Homo sapiens: one gene and its partner. The main gene of each other region encodes a partner of the protein of the gene in region 2 in a complex. Each region holds a gene or a part of one and is shown on either strand. Other genes may lie near its edges. The genes, in order: TAF8 and TAF1.

Evidence for each region.
Region 1: TAF1 (region 2) and TAF8 share a complex: the UniProt entries of both Homo sapiens proteins name them as parts of the TFIID basal transcription factor complex.

What each region holds. Positions count from the first base shown.
Region 1 is NC_000006.12:42,060,511-42,064,337, reverse strand, and holds part of TAF8 (transcription initiation factor TFIID subunit 8), read right to left. Parts: intron 1-3,827. UniProt on the Homo sapiens protein: The TFIID basal transcription factor complex plays a major role in the initiation of RNA polymerase II (Pol II)-dependent transcription.
Region 2 is NC_000023.11:71,463,217-71,466,618, reverse strand, and holds the end of TAF1 (transcription initiation factor TFIID subunit 1), read right to left. Parts: intron 2,796-3,402; coding exon 2,573-2,795; 3' UTR 614-2,572; downstream 1-613. UniProt on the Homo sapiens protein: The TFIID basal transcription factor complex plays a major role in the initiation of RNA polymerase II (Pol II)-dependent transcription.

The DNA of each region.
Region 1 (3,827 bases), on a different chromosome or scaffold from region 2:
GAGGTTGAAGTGAGCCGAGATCACACCACTGCACTCCAGCCTGGGGGACTGAGCGAGACTCTGTCCACCCCCCACAAAAAAACCCCAAAACTTCCCAATAATAAAATGAGTGGATTTTGAACATATTGTACTTGTTAAAAACATTAAAATGCAAAATCTTGTAATGATTCCTAAGACAACTTTTGGCACTCAATAAATTAGAAATTTAATAGAAAATTTTCAACCAAATTCTTTGGATAATGAGTAAATGAGGATGAAAAAAATTAGTTTTATGATTTATTAAGAGCAGCCAATGATGTTACATATGTTTGTGATGTACCATTTTCAACTATGAGAGCCATTAAAGTATCAAAATAAACTAATCTTAGATTCTGACCTCCAACTTACTATTCCATCAAGTATTAAACCAAGATTTCTAGGCTGGCATGGTAGCGTGTGCTTGTGGTCCTAGCTACTCTGCAGGCTGAGGTGGGAGGACTGCTTGAGCCCGGGAGTTCAAAGCTGTAGTGCCATGATTACACCACTGCACTCCAGCCTGGGCAACAGAGCGAGAACTCCACCTCTAAAAAAAGACTGAGCACAGTGGTGCATGCCTGTAATCCCAGCACTCTGGGAGGCCAAGGTGCAAAGACTACTTAAGGCTAGGAGTTCAAGACCAGCTTGAGCACCACAGAAAGACAAAAAACCTGTCCCCATCTCTATAAAATAACAACAACAACAAAACAAACAAGAACAACAAAACAAACAAAAACCCTATGATTTCAAAAAATAAAAAGCAGAGGCAATTGCTCCCGCTAGAAAAGGTTATAGGTTTCCTGAACATTTTAAAAGGGTAAGATTATCTTTTAATGTACATTATTTTGTACAATGTTACATTATAATATTCACATAAATAAGCAAACATATACTGGAGTATGTACCCATGCCTGGGTGAACTGCTTGCGCCCAGGAGTTTGAGACCAGCCTGGGCAACATGGCGATATCTTGTCTCTACAGAAGATACAAAAATTAGCTGGGCATGGTGGTGCACCCCTGTAGTCCCAGCTACTCGGGAGGTTGAGGTGGGAGGATCACTTGAGCCTAGAAGGTCGAGGCTGTGGTGAGCTGAGATCGCCCATTGCACTCCAGCAGCCTGGGCAACAAAGTGAGACCCTGTTTCAAAAAAAAATGTTACAGATAGGGATATACTATATAAAAGAGTTAAAGAATGTTATGGGTTGAACTGTGTCCCCACAAAAAAACATTTTTGATATGTCCTAGTACCTCACAATATGACCTTATTTGGAAATAGGGTCACTGCAGATGTAAGCACAGTGAAGATGAGGTCTTACTAAGGTAAGGTGGGTCCCTAGTGCAATATGACTAGTGTCCTCCTAAGAAGCTGGCCACAGGAAGACAGAGATAGAGAATGCCATGTGAACTTGGCATAGCTTTAGCCATAGCTTTTGTTAAAGGGAATGTAATTTTGTCTAGTTCAGAGGGTTTTAAAGATTGTCTTGGCCAGGCACGGTGGCTCATGCCTGTAATCCCAAAACTTTGGGAGGCCAAGGTAGGTGGATCACAAGGTCAGGAGTTCGAGACCAGCCTGGTCAATATGGTGAAACCCCATCTCTACTTAAGAAAAAAAAAAAAATTAGCCAGGCTTGGTGGCAGGCGCTTGTAGTCCCAGCCACTTGGGAGGCTGAGGCAGGAGAATCACTTGAACCCGGGAGGTGGTGGAGGTTGCAGTGAGCTGAGATCGCACCACTGCACTCCAGCCTGGCAACAGAGCAAGACTCTGTCTCAAAAAAAAAAAAAAAAAAAAAAAAGATTGTCTTAACCTAAAAGAGTAACAGAATCGAAACTGAAGATTTAAGCTAAGTAAAAAAGGTTTGTAAAGGGTTGATCGTGTAAAAATTCTGTGGGTATCAACAAGTTGGCTAAGATTTAAAAGAAATTATTTAGCTTTTTTCTGTAGGCTAAAACATTAAAATCATACTGATGTGGGGCCAGAATCTGGACCCACGTGTCTGAATAACAGGGTTTTCTTAGAAAATTGACCTACTGTTTGGTGGAAAATTGTAAAGGGTTCTAAAAAGTTTATGAAAATCTTACTGTATGGTCAAACTAATTAAAACTGGGTAGAGATATAAAATTTTATTTAAAAAACTAGCTTTAACATTAAAGATGCGCTAGTACAAATATGAAATTTGTTTTTCTCTTCTGAAGATGATTTTTATGTAATGTTAAAAGATAATGAAAGGGTTTTCTTTTCTCCTTTGGGTGAATGGCAGGGAAAAAAAAGAGGAGAGGGAGAGAAGAGACAGATTCAGTTGGCCTCATGCTATCTTCATCGAGTCTTGTTTGGAAAGCTAAGTCTCCTCTAACAGAGTAAAAGTTTTTCTTTACAAAAAAATTTTTTGGAGTTATCATTTTGGCTAAACGAATGACTTATGGTGACCTGGGATTCTATTTTGTGATATCCAGTGTTTTAAACCTTTGATATTTGACAAACTTTCCAAAATCCAATTAAAAATTATGTCTCTTTCTAACCTTTTAGATATTAGGTCCTCTAAAGCCCAAAAATGATTTGGCTTATCTGATACAAAATCATACAGGAGGCATTGTCAAATATGAAATGGTGTTTGGCTTTCTTTGGTCTATATTTGTATAAATGTTATTGGTATATGTTCCAAAATTACATAAAACTTCTATAATTCTAATATGACTTAGTGTATGTTATCAGTAATAATTATAATGATTATGTTAACAGATTGTGTGCCACAGAGGTAACAAATTTCCTTGCCAATTGTGCCTTTAACTGTGGCTGCCCTAAAATGTTTTTGTCATACACTTGTCTCATTTTGGTCCTCTTTAAAAGATGGTTTTATAATCAGCTATAAAATTTAACAGGTGCTAATAAATGCAGGTTTCTGATTAATAACTCTGGAGATTGTGACATTAGAATAGAGGAAAAACTTTCAAATAGAAGAGTGAATGGTGTTTGGTTTACTTTAGACTGTATTTGTATAAATATATTATTAGTATGTGTCCAAAATTATGGGAAACTTCTATAATGTTGATATAGTTTAGTGTACATTAATAATTATAATTGCTATGTAAAATTGTTGTATGCCACAGAAGTAACCAAAATTCCTAGTCAATTGTAGCTTTAATAGTGGCTATAGACTTTTGTCATCCACAGACATTTTATCTTGCTTTGGTCCTTTTCAAAATGCAGTTTATAATCAAATATAGGACTCTAAGTGCAGGTCTCAGATAACTTTAAGAACTGTGCTATTGGAATAGAGGAAAAAAACAAACTTCTAGGACTCTCACGGAGAGCTAATGTGTTAAACATTGCTAAACCTTTTGTTTTCAGAGTCAAGAGAAATTATTTCTTTAGAACTATTTGCAACTTTTATCATGTGAGTAAAATAAACTCCTGTGAACAAAATTTACAGCATATTGTTCCTCTCTACCTGATTTCTCCAGAATTTGGAAACTATTTGTGAATATTCTCAATTTATGGCAGTATAGCTAATTGCATAAGTGCAATAAGAATCTGTTTTCTTTTGTAACAGGCCACAGTTGGAGAAATTGGTTATTTTACCAAGGCTTTGACTGGAATGGCATGCTTTTTTTTAAAGAATCAAAGTTGACTTATATAGCCAATTAAAGCCCGTTGGGGAATCTGGCCTTATACCCCGTCCACACAGAGTCTCTGTACAAGGTTCCTGACCTGTGGTAAGTAAAGAATGTCACTTTCAAACAGGCTCAGGAACCCCAAGCTATCTTGGGACCTCAAGAGGAGACAAATTTGCCCAACTCATAGGTATTTGAGGGTA
Region 2 (3,402 bases):
ATCCTCTGAGGTCAGGAGTTTGAAACCAGCCTGGCCAACATGGCGAAACTCCGTCTCTACTAAAAATACAAAAATTAGCTGGGCATGATGGCAGGCGCCTGTAATCCCAGCTACTGAGGAGGCTGAGGCACAAGAATCGCTTGAACCCGGGAGGCGGATGTTGCAGTGAGCTGAGATCGTACCACTGCACTCCAGCCTACAAAAATCAGCCCGGTGTGGTGATGCGTGCCTGTAATCCCAGTTACTCAGGAGGCTGAAGCAGGAAAATCGCTTGAACCCGGGAGGTGGAGGTTGCAGTGAGCCGAGATCACACCACTGCACTCTAGCCTGGGCAACAGAGGGAGACTCCATCTAAAAAAACAAAACAAAAATAGGTGGCATGATAAATGTTAAAATGAACCAATGAATACCATGTACTCACCCAATCCCCCCAACCAAAATTCTGGAAGCCACCTTCCATTCCTCCTTCTCTACCCACAAATGCCAAGTCCTACTCCCTAAAGATCTCTCAAATCCATCCCCCTCCTCCCCATCCCAATGCCATAGCACCAGTTTGGGCTCCATTCTCTCTTACTTGAACTAGATCCATCCAAACCATTCTCCACACTACTGCTGGAATTTTTTAAAATTTTTATTACAAAAATAATACATACTGTAAAAAAATTCAAACAATATAGAAATAAAAGCACAATATCCCACCCAGCATACATAACAAACACAGAAGCCCCCTCCCCTCCAATCCCATTCCTGGGGGGTTATCATTGTGAACAGTTAGCATATATCCTTTCAGACTTTTACCTTTGCATACACAAGTATATATATAAACACATATAAACACACATGGTTCTTTTACAAAAATGCGATCACATATGTTACATGATTCTTCAATTTCTTTCTTCATTCATTCATTACACAGATTTCTAAAACACAAACCTGATTATATCACTCCTCTAAGAGCTTATTTCCCATAATATAAAAATCATACACATTAACATCAAACACAAAGCTTGTGATGATATACTTCCTGCCCATCTTTCAGTCTCATCTCAGCCCTTCCAGCATTAAAGGACTGGAATATAAACCACATTAAATCCTTCCTGGAACAAGGCAGGTACAAACAAACAAACAAACAAACTAGGAACACACTCTGCCATTTCTAGACTGTGGCCTTTCCCATTCATGTTACACTTTGCCTGGACTTTTCCATCTGGCAAGCTTCTACTAATTCTAAAACAATCAGCTTAAAAATTACCTCTAGGAAGACTTTCCTGACTTTTCAGACATGATTACTCCTCTATTTCCCCTATACTTTATAACTAGCTTCTTAATTGCACTTATCTCACAGTACTATGATGATTTATTAACATGTTTTGAATTCCACTTTCCCTCCCCCAACTTGATGGTGAGCTCTTTGGGTAAAAGGGATTTGTCTTATTTACCTTTGCATCCCAAGGATCTGATAGAGTGCTTATCATGAAAAGCAGATGCTCAGTAACATATCTGTTGAGGATTTTATGATTCTAGGAACATTTACTGAGTACCTACTATGCACAGAACCATATCCTAAGCATGAAAAGAAACAGAAGACACAGTCTTTGCCCTAAGAAACTTACCATTTTCCTACCATTTCCCCTGGGGAGGGTGGGGGGGACAGAAAACATTTAGGTGGCAACATTATCATTTCTGACATATAGGCTGTTTCAAAATTTACGGTAATTTGCCTCCAATCCATTTAGGAACTAGGCATTGCATAATTAAATAATAAAATAATGGGCGGTTTGTCTCACAGGTTTAAGTGTAGCACAGAGTCCACTAGAACCCAATTCTCTGTCCCAGCAGGAGGGCTCTCATCTGCTCCAGCCTGTAAATTAGAAAAGTGAGATGATACCATGCTTGGAAATTTTTTTTTTTTTGAGACTGAATCTCACTCTTTCGCCCAGGCTGGAGTGCAGTGGCGTGACCTCCACTCACTGCAACCTCTGCCTCCCGGGTTCAAGTAATTCTCCTGCCTCAGCCTCCCGAGTAGCTAGGATTAACAGGCATACGCCACCACACCTGGCTAATTTTTGTATTTTTAGTAGAGATGCGGTTTCGCCATGTTGGCCAAGCTGGTCTCGAACTTCTGACCTCAGGTGATCTGCCCGCCTCGGCCTCCCAGAGTGCTGAGATTACAGGTGTGAGCCACCACGCCTGGCCGGAAATTTCCTAATACATCAAGAGGACATAAAGTTACTAGTTCTTTCATAATTTCCCCTCCTTCCCCAGGGAAAAATTATACCAAAAGCAATAAATGGAGTTAAATAAAGGAGGACACGGAAAAATGAGCTTGCTCTTTTCCGTAGTGGTAGGGGAAAGGGGGTTGCTTTGTTTTAAATCAAAGGGTGACATTGCCCCAGGAAGATTAGGAGAGGTGATTTATTATCATTTACTTACTACTTTTAAAAAGGCTAAGGTGTTAGTTAATTTCATGATTTCAGGATCAGATACTGTACAAATATGAACAAATTGGGGAAAGGTGAACCACCTAGGCTGGAGAACAGGGAAGGCTGACCAAGGAGGCCCAAAGGAAGCCTCATTCATCAGAGTCCAAGTCACTGTCCCCAGCAATGGAGTGGAAATCCTCACTGTCCTCCTCGTCCTCTGACAGGTGGACCTGGCTTAGTACGCTCGGCCCAGAGCGCTGCTCTTCCTCCTCCTCATCTTCTTCCTCCTCTGATACCTCATACCCACCGATGCTGCTGAAGCTTGTGTCTTGGGTGTTCGACTTGGGATCAGGCTCCTCATAGCTCCCATAACTGAGAAGAGAAACATGTCATCTCTCAAGCTCGGACACCATCCTCTACCTGACCATTCCCATTCTCAGTGCCACCAAAGGATCAGCCCATCTCACCTCCCCTGGACACTAAAGTGACTGGTTCTGGACTATTCTACATGTCCCTGAGAGAAAAATGACCCTGTTCAAAAACATCAACTTGCCAACGTCATATACACAAGAACCTGAATGGAAGAAACTCCCTTACACCTGAACAACACACTGCCATCTTACATGACCATAAATGCTCTGACAGCCTCATGGTTTCATCTACCACTTACAGTATCCAATTAGTCAATAGTCCTGAAGATTCTCTCTTCAATATATCTTGTCTCTATCCCCTCCTTTCCATCCCTACTCTGCCTACCTTGGCTTAGTCCTTTGTTATCTCTGGCCTGCACTACTGAAATAAGTCGTCATGCCGCCAGTCTTGCTCTCCTCCAATTACTTCTTCACACTTCTGCCAGAGTGCTCTTTATTTTTTTGTTTGTTTGTTTATTCTTAATTTTACTTGAAAAAAAAATCACACAAGTAATGCACGTTCACTGGTTAAAAAAATTAGAATATACACCAGAAAAAAATTTAAAAAA